2 separate regions of the Homo sapiens genome follow, and region 1 is linked to region 2. Evidence: fine-mapped expression QTL. Tissue or cell type: blood mononuclear cells. Region 2 holds a variant in brackets; the other region holds the start of a gene. All regions are shown on one strand. Distances are between the middles of the regions.

The links. PIP is the estimated chance that this variant, and not a neighbour inherited with it, causes the effect. A credible set is the group of variants that fine-mapping cannot tell apart.
Region 1: it holds the start of ZNF280B, and the variant in region 2 is the best candidate, but not a certain one, in a credible set for the expression of ZNF280B in blood mononuclear cells (TOPMed, PIP 0.67).

The regions. Positions count from the first base shown.
Region 1 is chr22:22,504,617-22,512,800 of GRCh38, reverse strand. It overlaps ZNF280B (zinc finger protein 280B), which reads left to right and starts at 4,059. Exons shown (of 4, transcript NM_080764.4): 1 at 4,059-4,142; 2 at 4,931-4,991. It also overlaps IGL.
Region 2 is chr22:22,472,517-22,480,700 of GRCh38, reverse strand. It overlaps IGL. Among named protein-coding and RNA genes, the nearest start is that of ZNF280B, 32 kb to the left of the region's middle. The variant A/C (reference allele first, on the strand shown) is at 3,803.

The sequences.
Region 1 (8,184 bases), 32 kb before region 2:
TTTATGGTTTATCTTTCATGAGTCTTATTTAAGAAATTGTCTACAAACGACATAAAGATATTCCTTCTATGTTCTAGAAGCTTTACTGTTTTGATGAGACATCTCAAACTGATTTTTTGTTAATGGTGTGATAAGGCATGAAGACTAATTTTTTCATATACATACCCAAAATCAATCAGCACCACTTACTAAAAAGACCACTCCTTCCCTACTGTATTGCCGTGGAAACTGTGAATCAGGTATGATTGTATATATGTGTTTCTGGAATCTATTTCATTTCATTTGTCCTGTTCTCTATCCTTGTGCTAATGCTGCAGTATCTTAATTATTGTAGCTTTGCATAATCCTCCGTGTGGTAGTTTCATTTCTCCAACTTTGGTGTTCAAAATTGCCTTGGCTATTCCAAATGCTTTGCGAATTGAAGTGGCTTTCATGGGTGTGCTTTTCTTGGTCTCAAACTCAGGTAGAATAGTTTACTTTAATTGTGATGTTAGCTGTGGGGCTCTTTGTAGTTACCCACTGAGTACACGGGAATCAACTTACAAATCAGTAACAGAAAGATCACTGAAAAAAAACCCAAAGTTCCTAAATTAGGCAATACATTTCTAAACAGGGCTGGGACTAGGGTGAGGCAAGCAGGGAACCTAAGGTGACAATATGCCATACCTGAAGCTGGGCGTGGGTCTCTCCTTAATGTGCCTCAGCCTCCTTGCTTATCTCACCCCAGTCCTGGTCCTCATTCTGAATAACCCATAGCTCCTCTAAGAAATTGCAGTGAAAAAAGGAAAATGTTGAACTGAAAGATATTGAAAACAGCCACAAAATTTATGGGATGGAACTAAAGCATTTCATGGGAATTTATATTTCTAAATGCATATATTTGGGAAGAAGAAAGGTTGACTAATGATCTAAGTCAGTGCTGTCCGTAGATCTTTCTGCAATGATGAAAATGCTCTACTTCTGCTCTGTCCAATATGCTACAGGTGACTATTGATCTGTTGAAATGTGGCAAGTATGACTGAGGTACTAAATTTTTTATTTTATTTTTGATTAATTTAAAACTAAAAAGCTATTTTTGATTAATTTAAAACTAAAGGAAGAAGAGACAAATCTTCCTTAAAGAAGAATTGCAAAGTAACTTGTGTAGATAATTTTCCTTCAATGAGACCTCACGGCCTTCCTGCATGTAGGCAAGATTTAGAATAAGGTATGAAAGGGGGGGGAAGTAATTTACAGCGGAGAAGCCAGTAGGAAGTCTTATTGATAGCATGGATCGCTGATGAGAAATTATGAGAAAGACACATCATGTCTGTGATAGTCTTCTAAAAACCATAACCCCAGTGTAACCATGAGAAAAACATCAAACCTAAATTGAGAGACACTCTGAAAAATACCTGACCTTTACTTCTTAAAATTGTCAAGGTCATGAAAAGCAAGAAAAGTTTAAGAAACTGTCACAGACCACAGAAGGCTAAGAACACAAAATGACCAAGTACAATTCAGTATCCTGGGTGGGAATCTGGAACAAAAAGGATGATGGGAAAAACTAGTGACATTTGAATAAAGCCTGGAGCTTAGTTGATACTAATTTACTGATGGACATTGGAATTATTATGAAGCCAAAAGAAGATCATTTCTCATAGATTTATTTTTCATGTTATTATTTTTTGAGACGGAGTCTCGCTCTGTTGCCCAAGGCTGGAGTACAGTGGTGCAATCTCAGCTCACTGCAACCTCTGCCTCCCAGGTTCAAACAGTTCTCATGCCTCAGCCTCCCGAGTAGCTAGGACTACAGGCGCGTGCCACCACACCCAGCTAATTTTTGTATTTTTTGTACAAAAATGGGGTTTCACCATGTTGGCCAGGCTGGTCTTGAACTCCTGACCTCAAGTGATCTGCCTGCCTTGGTCTCCAAAAATGCTGGGATTACAGGTGTGAGCCACCGTGCCAGGCCTCTTACGTACATTTTAGATATTGCAAATATCTTCTTTACATATCAGCCTCATATATACATTTTAGATAATGCAAATATCTTTACATATCAGCCTCATATATACATTTTAGATACTGCAAATATCTTCTTTACATCTATGATCTCTTCATTTTGACTATGGTACACTTCACTGAACAGAAATCTTCAAATGCAAGGGTGAGTAATATTTAGGCCATGTGATTTGATTATAATACAATTAAAAAATCTTTTAAAAATCTCATAGATTTCAAAAATAAATAACATATACTATATAACCCTTGTGTTAGAAAGAATCACTATGTAAAAAATAGAGGTTCCTCTTCAAAGACTTTCCTCCCTGTCTAATTACGAATAAATAGTAACTTCTCTTAGAAGTAAAATTTATTCAAAGACCTGTGCTAACATTCTTAGATATCTGCTAGCCGTAATAAAGAAATTAATATACTTTGTGTTCTTAGCTCCCACAATTTAGCCTAAATATTTGCCCTTGCATGCTTATACTGGTCCAAGCAAGCATTAGGTCATAGCCTGTTCCTCTTCCTATTTGGAGGTGTTTTTACCTTTCTCAGCATTCTACAAGTTACATCCTCCTTCCTTTGTTCTCCTCTGCCTTTGCCTCTTTTAGAAAGTTCTAAGTTGTTAGCCAATCGGGACAAACACAGAATGTGAGGTCCTGTTCCAGCCAATGGAAACCGGACACAGCAGTAGGGTGGATGCGTCAGGTTATAAATAACCCTGTATCCTTTGTTTGGGGTACTCTCGTGGCAAAACTGCTGGCGAGTGTACCCTTTCTGCAGAAAGTGAAAATGGCCTTGCTGAGAAAATTAAATTTATGTTCAAGTGCTATTTCTTTGCGGCACCAGGGAACAAGCATTTCTAACAACTAGCAAAATTAGGACATATCTAATTGAAGGATAATGAACATATTACCAAGCGGACTGGTGAGACACAGTTAAACTGGTACTTAAAGGTAAATTTATAGCATTAAATACAAGAGAAACAAAAAAGTTTACAAGCAAACGAGGTAGGCATTTTTCTCCAAAAGTTGTAATGAGAAGTAACAGAACAAGCCTATGAAGTCACGAAGGAAGAAAATAACAGAATGGAAGAAATAGATAAAATAGATAAGAAAATAACATTATAGATTAATTAAACCAAAAGCGATTTACCCGCCCCCCAAAAAGATTGCTAAAATAGACTTTTGGCAGAATTGGTCAATTCAAAAAAAAAATCAAAGCTGCAAGTAAACTGAGTGGGCAAACTTTCTGTAAAGGGCCAGACAGTAAATATTTTAAGCTTTTCATACATGGTCTCTGGCAATTAATCAACTTTGCTGTTGAAGCAGGAAAACAGGCATAAATAATACCGAAAGGAATGGGCATGTTTGTTGTTCCAATAAAACTTTATTTATGGACACTGAATTTTGAATTTCATATAATTTTCACATGCCACAAAATATTCTCTTTTTAGCCATTAAAAAAACGTGAAATCGGTTCTTAGCTTGCTGCCAGCTGTACAAAAACAGGTGGCAGGCTGGATTCAACTGGCCCCAGATGTAACTAGAAGAGGACAGATGTTAGGTTCAGTTGTTTCCTCACAATCCCTTAAGCATGGATAGTCAACAAAGGGACCACACCTGAGAATTATAACAGCTGGCCTTCTGGTGGGCAAACCATCCCCTGATGGACTGGAAGCCTACCCCCCACCCCAAGCCCTGGCTGCGACAGCTCTGGAACCCTGACTGCCTGGGTGCCCCTCAGCTCTGGAACCCTGACTGCCTGGATGCTCCTCAGCTCTGGAACCCTGACTGCTTGGATACCCCCTCAGCTCTGGAACCCTGACTGCCTGGAACCGTGATCCGGAACCCAAGATCCTTTCAAGGCCTCAGGGGTATTGCTGCTGCCCTCCTCCTTCTCAATTTAACCCCGCGTCCAGCCGTCGCCACCAGGGGCGTCAGAGCGCGCGCATGCTCCTAGCTCGGAGCCGCGCCGATCTCGCGCCGGCACCTGGCAGCCAATCGCAGGTCTCCACTGGACGCGCGCGTGTGGAGGCGTGCGCGTCGGCGGCGCCGGGGGCCTGAGGAGGCGTAGTCGCCGCCGGCTGTGCCCCGGGAGCGCCTCCGGGGCTGGTGCGTGGCCGGCAGCTCGCGAACAGCAGCTGATCCGGACTGGTAAGGACGGGGGCGTGGCGCGGCTTCAGCGTTCCCTGAGGGGAGACTTGAGGGATTTCATGGCGAGCCGCAGCCCTGCGGGTCGCGACACCGCGCTTGGCCGTGCGCTGCCGGAGCGGCCTTTGCAATACAGCCGCTTTCTGTGGGGGAGTGCAGGGCAGAAGCAGGTCCCACGATCCCCTCACGCACACCCCCTTCCCTAATCTCAGCGGGCGCCACTTTTACATCAGCCTCCACTCCCTCACGCAGACGCCCCCACCCCCGGGCTGGGCCCGGGCCTCCTGGAGAAGGGGCCTTTCCTGGCTCCCAGTGCGCTCCCCTCCCCCATCGCCCCCGCGGGGTCTCTTTTGGCGCTCAATGTATTTAAAAATCTGAAAACTGCTTTGTAACCCCAGGCCCTCCCCAGTTCTGGAGACCTGTAGGCCCAGACCCCTTAAGGCATTTGAATGTATGGGTCTCTCTCCCCTACCGCAGCGTCTTGTCTCATTTACTGCGTCGCTGTCGGGACTCTTAATGCAGCCCCTGGGACCCTAATGGAGTCCCTCCCGTGAGAGCCAGGACCTCGGGTGATTTGCAGGCTTTTGATTTGGGCAGTTGGCGGGTGGGACGTTTTCCTTTGCTAAGGTAGGGTAGATTGGAGGAACAGATCTGGGGGAAAGGAGTTCAGTTCACTTATCTGGTTAAGTGTGAGATGATTGATAAACACCTAAATGGCAATGTCAGGCAGTGGGATCGAAAATATTCTTGTGACATGTAAGTAACTAATGCTTCTCTCTGGTTACCTCAAGGATGTGACCTTCTGCCTGGAATAGCTCAAGTTCTTAAAAGTTGCGTTGTAATAAACCTGAGGTAAGAAAAGAGAAGTCTCCCTGATGAGGACCAAAGTTGTATTTTCGTCCTTCAGTTTCGCTCCCCTGCCCTTTCCTTTGCTGAAACATAGCTGTTTGGTATTCAATATTTTACTGAGGGAATCTGAATGATGTGTTTGATTAGTTCAGGCCAATTGTTGATGTAGGTCATTCGGGAACCCTCTAAATTGCTTTGTTGAGAAAGGAGAGGGTGGTAGTGGCATTCTTTTACCACATCTCTTGAAAAAAAAAAAAAGAGCATCAGGGATGTTAAGTTATATAAAGCTGACTCCTTTTATCCTACCCTCTTTCTCAGCGACTGTATTTCATGAGGTAACTGCATGCAGCAGGACAGGGGAGGTCATCTGAAGTCATTGCATGCCAGTAGGTGAGATTATAGTGAATTGTGTGCCCAGCAATTTGTGATTACAGCTCAGTGAGACCCATTGTATTAGTTATCTATTGCCGTGTAACAAATTGTCTCAAAACTTAGTAGTTTAAAAAAAAATTTATTACCTCATAGTTTTTGAAGGTCTGGAATCCAAGAGTGGCTTAGCTGGCTGTTTCTGGCTCAAGGTCACTCATGAGGTTTCAGTGAAACCCTTGGCTGGATTGTCAGTCTCTGCGGAATTGACTTGGTTTGGATCATCTGCCTCTAAGCTCACTCACTGGGCTGTTGGCAAGAGGCCTCAGTTCCTTGCTCTGTGGGCCTCTCCATGGGGCTGTTCATGTCACAGCAGCTGGCTTACTTCAGAGCAAATGATTCAAGAGACCTTGTACCCAAGATGAAGGGCAGAGTCTTTATGACCTAATTTCTGAAGTGGCATACCATCACTTCCTGCTGTATGTGCTTGATCCCACAGGCCAACCCTGTTAGTGGGAGAGGGCTACAACTATGTGAATTCCAGGAAGTGGGATTCATTTAGGGCCATCTTGGAGGATGGCCACCGCAACCATTTATCCACCATTTAACCCTTTTCCATAGGATCTCAAAGCATTGTCCTGTTACTCTGGGTGAATAATTTGACTTCTTGCTAAGGCCAGAACCTCTACATGTGCACTTGTTTATTTAAGGATATTATTCTAGCAAGACTTCTCTTTGTCTAGGGTTAAGTTTTCTATCTCTCCAGATCATTAATATAGCAAACATACTGATTGTACCATCACCTCACCTTAAAGATCTCGTTTTTGATGCCACATCTCCCATCTGCTTGTTTTAATTTGTATTTGCTTGTCCTTACAGGAAAATTTCTCCAGAGTTGTCCGTATTTGCTATCTCCTGTTCTCGTTCTTCCTTAAACCCACTGCTGTCAAGGTCACCAATGAATTCCACTTTGCTTAATCCATTGGTCAGTTTTAGTTGATTTTCGTGATTTTATTTGATCTATTGGCAGCATATATTACAGTTCCTTTTCTCCTCCCCATTGGATTCTGGGATGCTTCTCTTTCTCAATTCTCCTCCCACCTGAATGGCTGTGAATAATTGTTTTTTTTTTAATTTCCTTTACCAGCTCCTTCTCATCTCCATGACCTCTAATCAATGGAATGCTCCAGAGCTTAGATCTCAGACCTCTTTTCCCTGAGTGATCTCATCCAGTCTTGTGTTTTAAATAATGCTACATACTGAAGACTTCAAAATTTAAGTACCTACCTCGGAACTTTCCTTGGGCTCTGATCTCATAGATTTACCTGCTCAGCATTACCTCTTGTGTGTCCTCCTCCTCTCCTTCACATCCCAAACCCAATCCATCAATGAACCTTGTGGGCCTTCTAGATTTTTATCTAGAGTCCGACTTCTTAGTATCTCTATTTCTCCATCCTGTCTGATACTACCATCATCTTTTGTTCATAATATTTCAGTAGCTTCTTGTCTTCTGCTTCCACTATTACTCTCTAAAGTCTATTCTCCACACAGTAGCCACAGCAATCCTAATGAAATGAGTGAGATCATATTACTTCTCACTCAGAGCCTTCCAGTAATCTCTCATCACACTCAGGGTAAAATCTGAAGAATTTGTTTTTATTTTTTGTCTATTTATGTACTTATTTTTTGAGATGGAGTTTCGCTCTGTCACCCAGGCTGGAGTGCAATGGCGCAGTCTCGGCTCACTGCAACCTCTGCTTCCTGGGTTCAAGTGATTCTCCTCCTCAGCCTCCCAAGTAGCTGGGATTACAGGTGCCCGCCACCACACCCAGCTAATTTTTGTATTATTATTATTTTATTTTTATTTTTATTTATTTTTTTGAGATGGAGTCTTGCTCTGCCACCCAGGCTGGAGTGCAGTGGCATGATCTCAGCACACCGCAGCCTCTGTCTTCTGGGTTCAAGCAATTCTCCTGCCTCAGCCTCCCGAGTAGCTGGGACTACAGGCACGTGCCAGCACACTTGGCTACGTTTTGTATTTTTAGTAGAGACGGGGTTTCACCATGTTGGCCAGGCCGGTCTCGAACTTCTGACCTCAGGTGATCCACCCGCCTCGGCCTCCCAAAGTGTTGGGATTACAGATGTGAGCCACCACACCTGGCCAAAGCTGAAGAATTTAGAATGGCCTACATGATCTTGGCTTTCCTTTGCCACAAACAGCTCATTTTTTATCTCATTTCTAACTTGTCACTCTTTTCATTGGTCCACCTGTGTTAGCCTATTGATCAGTCCTTGCATGTGTTAAGTGCTCCAGTCTCAGAGGCTTTGTGTTTGCTGTTCCCTTTGTTGGAGTATTCTTCCCCAGATAGCCATATTCATGTTATGTGAGTATCAACCTGCCTCCATTTCCTACTTTATTTTTCTCCCTAGTGTTTATATAACCATGTTACTTTTGTTAAAAAAATTATTTTCTGACTACCCCTTCTGGAATGTCAGCTCCCTGAAGTGAAAGACTTTGGATCACTGCTATATCACCAGACCAATACATGGCACCTTGTTGGCCCACCAAACTTTTATTGAATGAGTGGTCTTCTTAAATTCGTCTCAAATACTACCTTGATGCTTCCCTTTCTCCTTTTCTCTGTAGTAATGAGATTATGAGAACTGTGCAGATTCTTGATCATTCCTGTATAATTTCTCTCTTAGTTTTTTGTGGACTGGGATATGTTTTAATTCTACTGATTGAATACATTTTATAGCTATAGTTCCACTAAAATAGCAAACATCAGAACATCAAATGTGTATGTTTGGCTACACACAGAACCTTATA
Region 2 (8,184 bases):
CCAGTCTTCTTGGGTTTTTATGGAAGCTTCATGACTTAAGCATTCTCTCCCGCTAGAGTATAGGGCAGGATTCTCTCTTGGGAGGGTCTTAGAACCCACAATCAGAAAGATTAGAGTCCTGCCTTGGGGCAGGTAAAAGGATGGCAGAAGGTCAGAAGCCTACCTCTGAGGCCTAACACCGAACATTATAACAAAAGACTGTAACAAGGGCTGTGGGAGTTATGAACTGTGGACAAAACCAATGTATATTATAACACCACAAGAGCATAGCATACACAGCATAGAGATGCTGGTCAATGGGATGATTTATGTCCTGAATGGAACTCAGAGCCACTGCACTAGATTTCATCACACTAACCAGAATGGCATGCAATTTAAAACCTAAGAATTGTTGGCTGAGTGTGGTGGCTCACGCCTCTAATCCCAGCACTTTGGGAGGCTGAGGCAGATAGATCATTTGAGGTCAGGAGTTTGAGAACAGCCTGGCCAACATAGTGAAACCCCATCTCTACTTAAATACAAAAGTTAGTTGGGTGTGGTGGTGGGCACTTGTAATCCCAGCTACTCAATACACTGAGGTAGGAGGATTGCTTGAGGCCGAGGAGCAGAGGTTGCAGTGAACCGAGATCACGCCACTGCACTCCAGCCTGAAGGACAGAGCAAGACCCTGTCATTAAATAAATAAATAAATAAACTAAAACCTATGAATTGTTTATTTCTGGAATTTTCCGTTTAATATTTTTGGACCACAATTGACTGTGGGTAACTGAAACCATGGAAAGTAAAACCACAGATAAAGGGGACTACTGTACTCTGAAGCATCATTTTTGATCTTTCAGAGCCTTAAAGGATTTTACCCTCTGACTGGGTGCAGTGGCTCACACTTGTAATCCAAGGCTGGTGGATCACCTGAGGTCAGGAGTTCAAGACCAGCCTGGCCAACATGGTGAAACTCCGTCTCTACTAAAAAAAAAAAAAAAAAAAAAAAAAAAAAATTTGCTGGGCATGGTGGCCTGCACCTGTAACTCCAGCTACTCGGGAGGCCGAGGCAGGAGAATCACTTGAACCTGGGAGGCAGAGGTTGCCGTGAGCTGAGATCAAGCCGTTACACTCCAGCCTGGGTGAAACTCTGTCTCAAAGAAAAAGTAAAAAGGATTTTTACCCTCATCTTTCATATTTCTGCACCTTTCTTTAGTGCCCTGGATATAACCTTTGCTTGGGAGCAGTTAATTTTAGCATCTTTTGCCATCTGGAAAGACTGGGAATTTTCAAAACCAGCAGGTACTGGCTCTTGGCTCTTTTTTGTTTAACACTTCTTCCCTTAGCTTGTTTCTGTCCCCTCAGATTTTACTATAAGTAGCAAGAAGAAACCAATCAGCACTTTCAGCATTCTGGCTGGAAATCTCAATTAGATGACTCAGGTACATTTTCTACTTTCACCTGACTAGGTGATAGTCACTAAACTTTCTGCCACTACGTAACTACGTAACCCCTTGCTCAATTTTCTAATAACATGTTCCTCACTTCATTTTAAGCTACACCAGAGCCTTCTCAGAGTCCAGTTTTCTACTAAGGCTTGCACTGACAATCTCCTTGAAGATTTTTTAGCTTCTGCCCACTGCCCAGTTTCAAAGCCACTCCTACATTTTAGGTATTACACCAGCACCTCCCTTCCAGGTACTAAAATCTGTATTAGTTACCTATTGCTGTATAATATATTACTGCAAACTTATCAACTAAAACCACCACTATTTGTTATCTCATGGTTTCCGAGGGTCAGGAATTTGGGGTCACTTAACTGAGTGGTGCTGTCTCAGCTTCTTTCATGAGGTTGCAGTTAAGATGTTGACTGGGGCCATATCATGTGAAAGGCTTGACTAGGGCTTTCAAACTCACTTGGGTATTGGCAGGAGGCCTCCCTCTGTTCCTTGTCATATGGTCCTCATGACATGTCAGCTGGCTTCCTACAGAATGAGTGATCCAAAAGAGAACAAGGAAGGCATTGCAATGTTTTTTATAATAGCCTTGGAGGTAAAATAACTTCACTCTGTTGTATACTCTTGGTCACCCAGAGCAACCCTGATGCTATGTGGGAATGGACCATATACAGATAGGAATACCAGAGGGTGGGGAATCACTGGAGGCCATCTTGGAAGTTACCACAGGGAAAATGGAACATTAGAAGTTTTTATGATACAAGGAAGGCAGCTAAAACTGAGTTAATGGTCATTGTGTTGCCTTCCCACTCTCTGGTGTGCCATTGTGGCTGACACCATTTTGAGAGGATTCTTTTTAAAGTTCATTTATTTTAAAATGTTGAGTATATAATATATTCACATTCTTCAAACATCGAAAAAGTAACAACTCAGATTCTTTTTTTAGCCTTTCAGATAGTTTCTTATTTTTTCTTTTCTTTTTTTTAAATAACTGATTTATATTATGCACAGTCTTCTGCACCTTGCTTTTTTTATTTGACGGTGTAACATGTTCACATTTTATGGCATATAAACAGGAAAATTATAGCCTGAGATTATGAAAGGGCTAATTAAAAATATTTCTGAAGTGTTTCCAAAGATTACTAAGAAAAATCGGGGGCCGGGTGTGTTGGCTCACGCCTGTAATTCCAACACTTTGGGAGGCCAAGGTGGGCAGATCACAAGGTCAGGAGTTCGAGACCAGCCTGGCCAATGTGGTGAAACCCCATCTCTACTAAAAATACAAAAATTAGCTGGGCATGATGGTGGTGGGCACCTGTAATCCCAGCTACTTGGGAGGCTGAGGCAGGAGAATTATTTGAACCCAGCAGGTGGAGGTTGCAGTGAGCTGAGATCGCACCATTGCACTCCAGCCTGGGTGACAGGGCCAGACTCCATCTCAAAAAAAAAAAGATTACTAAGACAAATCTCTAATGCACTATTATAAAATTGTTGTAAAGAAAAAAATCCCTGTCCATTTCACAAAGAATAAATATAGCTGATTGGTAAATAAATGCAAAATATTTAGTCTCCATAGCAAAAACAAAAATGGGAATTAAAGCAATGGTAGCGTACTGATGAATATTATATAAATTGTAATGTTTACTGTCAGTGAGGATGTATTAAAAGGAGTTTCAATTGGCATAAGCCTTTTTGGAAGTTATTTCAATATATGAATAAAAAGGTAATAATTTCATTTTTTTCATAGGATGCTTTTTTTTTTTTTTTTGAGACAAAGTCTCACTCTGCTGCCCAGGCTGGAGTTCAATGGCGCAATCTCGGCTCACTGCAACCTCTGCCTCCAGGGGTCAAGCAGTTCTCCTGCCTCAGCCTCCCAAGTAGCTGGGACTACAGGCACCTGCCACCATGCCCGGCTAATTTTTTGTATTTTTAGTAGAGACAGGGTTTCACCATGTAGGCCGGGCTGGTCTCAAACTCCTGACTTCAGGTGATCCACCTGCCTTGGCCTCCCAAAATGCTGGGATTACAGGCGTGAGCCACTGCTGGCCTCATGGGATGCTTTTAACATATCCAATAAAAATTTACAGAATGAATGTTTATGTATATATCCAAAATTGAGTATGTAAGATAATTCATCAATACTTTGGTTGTACTAATGTAAATGTAAAGTAGAAATAATTTTTTTTTTTTTTTTTAGTTAGAGACAGGGTATCTCCATGTTGGTCAGGCTAGTCTCAAACTCCTGATCTCAGGTGATGTGCCCACCTCGGCCTCCCAAAGTGCTGGGATTACAGGCATGAGCCACCAGGCCTGGCCAGAAATAATTTTAAATGCCTGGAAACTGAACAGTTTTGTACTTTTCATTT[A/C]ATAGCTGCACAATCTACTTTTTTTGTTGTTTTTCGTTATTGTTGTTTTGGTTTGGTTTTTTTTTGAGGCGGAGCCTCACTCACTCTGTCGCCCAGGCTGGAGTGCAGTGGCACTATTTCGGCTCACGGCAACCTCCGCCTCCTGCGGTCAAGAGATTCTCCTGCCTCAGCCTCCTGAGGAGCTGGGATTACAGCCGCGGGCCCCCACGCCCGGCTAATTATTTTTTTGTAATTTTAGTAGAGATGGGGTTTCACCACATTGCCCAGGCTGGTCTCAAACTCATTGGCCCCAAGTGGTCAGCCGCCTCTGCCTCCCAAAGTGCTGGGATTACAGGCATGAACCACCGTGCCTGGCTGAAATAGCTGCACTATATACTTTTTTTAAAAGAGATAGATTGCAGTAATGTGAAAGAAAACTAGCAGGAAAAAAATTTGTATACATTGTGATCTGAACTATGGAGAAAATATGTGAAAGAACAGCCAGGCGCGGCGGTTCACACCTGTAATCCCAGCACTTTGGGAGGCCGAGGCGGGGCAAATCACTTGAGCTCAGGAGTTCCAGACCAGCCTGGCCAACGTGGAGAAACACCGTCTCTACTAAAAATACAAAAATTAGCCGGCGTGGTGGCAGATGCCCGTACTCCCAGCTGCTCGGGAGGCTGAGGCAGGAGAATTGCTTGACCCCCCCAGGAGGCAGAGATTGCAGTGAGCCAAGATTGCACCACTGCACTCCAGCCTGGGTGACAGAGTGAGACTCTGTCTCAAAAAAAAAAAAAAAAAAAAAAAAGAAGAAGTAGGAGAAGAGACTAAAATTGTAACATCTAACTTCTGAACTATTTGGTCTTTACGGCGTAGTTAAATATGCTCCTTGAAACAAATACTTCTAGGTCGGGCATGGTGGCTCACGCCTGTAATTCCGGAATTTTAGGAGGCTGAGGAGGAAGGATAGCTTGAGCCCAGAAGTTCAAGACCAGCCTGGGCAACACAGGGGGATCCAGGCTGTACAGAAAATAAATAAATTAGCCAAGTGTGGTGGTACACACCTATGTTCCCAGCCACTTGGGAGATTGAGGTAGGGGAGGATAGCTTGAACCTGGGAGGTCAAGCCTGCAATAAGCAGTGATTGTGCCACTGCACTCCAGCCTGAATGACAGAGCAGGACCACATCATTAAAAAAAAAAAAAAAAAAAAAAAAAGCCAGATTTTATGTAGTAAACTTGCATTGTTTTGAAAAATTTTTTAGGCCAGGCGCGTTGGCTCATGCCTGTAATCCCAGCACTTTGGGAGGCCGAGGCGGGCGGATCACGAGGTCAGGAGTTTGAGACCAGCCTGACCAACATGGTGAAACCCTGTCTCTACTAAAAATACAAAAATTAGCCGGGCGTTGTGGCGGCTGCCTGTAATCCCAGCTACTAGGAGGTTGTAATCCCTAGGAGGTTGAGGCAGGAGAATCACTTGAACCCAGGAGGTGGAGGTTGCAGTGAGCCAAGATCGTGCCATTGCACTCCAGCCTAGGTGACAGAGCAAGACTCCATCTCAAAAAAAAAAAAAAAAAGAAAAATTTTTTATATAAAATAAGGAGCTTGTTTTCTTTGCTATTATCAGTCAGAATTACATCATAGAGAGATTTTTTTTTTGAAAAAATATTTGACCATAAACTCTTCATCTAGTATACCTCTTATTGTTCCCTATGGATTGGAAAAATATTTGCATTCTATTTTTCCTAGACCCACTTTCTCCCAAAAGAAGGCAGAAGAATCATTCTAAAGGCTGATCTGAAATCTCTGTGAACCTGGGCAGTGACTGAGTGAGGAGGAGGAGAGGAGTCTAGACCACGGTGCTGAAGTTCCAAGGGCCCACTGGCCTCACAGCTAGTGTTGGACTCTCTAATGGCTCTTTTATGCCCTCCTCACCTCTTGCATAAAGGTTAGGTATTTGTGGGACACATTATGCAAATCTGAGCCTTTTATCTCTCCCTCCTCCTCCTATTCTGGTCTTTGTCCCAGGGAGCAACTCCCTGTCATGGGGAGGCCTAGGTGGCTGTGAGATCTGGCTTTGCCCTGTGGGAGGGAACAGCTGCTGTAACCTCTTGCAGGGCCTATGAGCAAGTGTCCAGGGTACCTAAAATATGAACAACCTGAACGTCAGGCTTCAGAGAGGATCCACGGCACCTTGCTGTGGTTTCCTGGGGTGGAGGATTGTAGTACCCCTCTCATTCATTTAACTTTTTTTGACATTTCTACTGTATTTCCTAGGCAAGCCCACATTCATTGTTTGTCTCTTTGTTCAGTCCTTTTTGTAGTTATTGTTGAAAATCCACTGCATTGTCTGTATTTCATTTCAGTGTTATCCGTCTTGTTTATCTGAGTGTTTTGAATGACTAAAGAAGTTATATTCATGACCATCTGATTTGAAGTTATTTACTTTGAACCTCATGCTGAATAAACTGCTTGCTTAAGATGAGAATTATTTAAATAATTTACTTTAGAGTATCTTATTTTATTTTAGTTTTTTAGACGGAGTCTCCCTCTGTTGCCCAGGTTGGAGTGCAGTGGTGCAATCTCAGCTCACTGCAACCTCTGCCTCCTGGGTTCAGTGATTCTCCAGCCTCAGCCTTCTGAGTAGCTGGGATTACAGGCGCCCGCCGCCACCCCGACTAATGTTTTTTTTTTCTTTTTTTTTTGAGATGGAGTCTCGCCCTGTTTCCCAGGCTGGAGTGCAATGGTGTGATCTCAGCTCACTGCAACCTCTACCTCCCGGGTTCAAGCGATTCTCCTGCCTCGGCCTCCTGAGTAGCTGGGATTACAGGCATTCGCCACCACGCCCAACTAATTTTTTGTATCTTTAGTAGAGATGGGGTTTCACCATGTTGGTCAGGGTGGTCTGTAACTCCTGACTTTGTGATCCACCCACTTCGGCCTCCCAAAGTGCTGGGATTACAGGTGTGAGCCACTGCACCCAGCCTAGACTACTTTAAATAGAAAATACAGACACATAACCAAAGACTGACTATGCTAGTCCAGCACAGACATTAGGCTCTGAGAGACCAAGACAGGGAAGGGAAATCTGGAGCATTTCAAAATGGAGAGGCACAAACTATCTCTGTTCTGACTTAAGACAACAGCAGCCCCTCCTAAAGGTGCTCATCGACAGGAGCCATCAGAGCTTTTGATGAGGTTTCCTGTAGGCTCTGCACCTCAGGAGCTTTTGCTCTGTGCGTATGTGTGTAAGGTCCTAGTTTGTGGATTACTCTATTATCTATTATTTTAATAAAAGACATCTAGAGTGTACTACTGTCGGTAGATCAGTTGGCCACGTCAGGGTTCATCTACAGGGTGAAAAGGGTACCCTAGAAAGGATGTATCCGCCTTTATGCACTTTGGGGGGATTTCAACTTAAGTACAAAGCAGGAAAAGCCTTACTTTGTGACTGGAAACATCTGTGAGGTGACTCCTATATTATTATAATTTATTACTATTATTTTCATTTAATTTGTAGCCATAGTTCTATGGTAAATAAAATCTGTACAAAATTTTGCATACTTGTGTTGAACCAGATATTTAAGTTTAGGAATTTTTACAAAGTAAATGACTTGCTGTATGAATAGATGTAGTTTGAAAGAAGTTCAACAACATGTAGTTTATAATAGAGAAAACATAGAATCCCTGTAATACTATGAATAAGTAATGATCTAAGGAGCTTTATATACTTGAAAACATGCAGAGATGTTGATTATGTATTACTAAATGGGAAAACGCCTCGTAAGATAAATTGCATTCTGACCCTTCTTTCCTTGCCTCCTCCCTTAACCCCTTTCCCTGTCCCACCTCAACTAACATCTGACAGAGCAAATGCAGAAATCCAGAAGGGTATTTGTTGTCAAAATATATATAATGGTTATCTCTAAGTAGTGAGATATGGATAATTTTTGTTTTAAACTTTTTTTTTTACATTAGCTATTACTTTTGTTCTACACACTCTTCCTTTTTACATTATTTAACCTCAAAAGAAAGTTTGGGAGAGGGGCCAGGTGAGGCGGCTCATGCCTGCAATCTCAGCACTTTGGGAGGCCAAGGCAGGAGGATCATTTGAGGCCAGGAGTTCAGGACCAGCCTGGGTAACATAGCGAGACCCTATCTATACGAAACATAAAAAAAAAAAATAGCCAAGCATAGTGGCACATGCCTGTGGTCCCAGCTACTTGGGAGCCTGAGGTGGGAGATTTGAGCCCAGGAGGTTCAGGCTGCAATGAGCCATGTCTGCACTCCTGCCTGGGCGACAGCAGTGTTAAAAAAAAAAAAAAAATGTCTGGGAGAGGACAGAATAGCTATCAAGAAAAAGAAGTGTGTCATCCCTGATCCTGGACAAGTCACTGGTGCCTA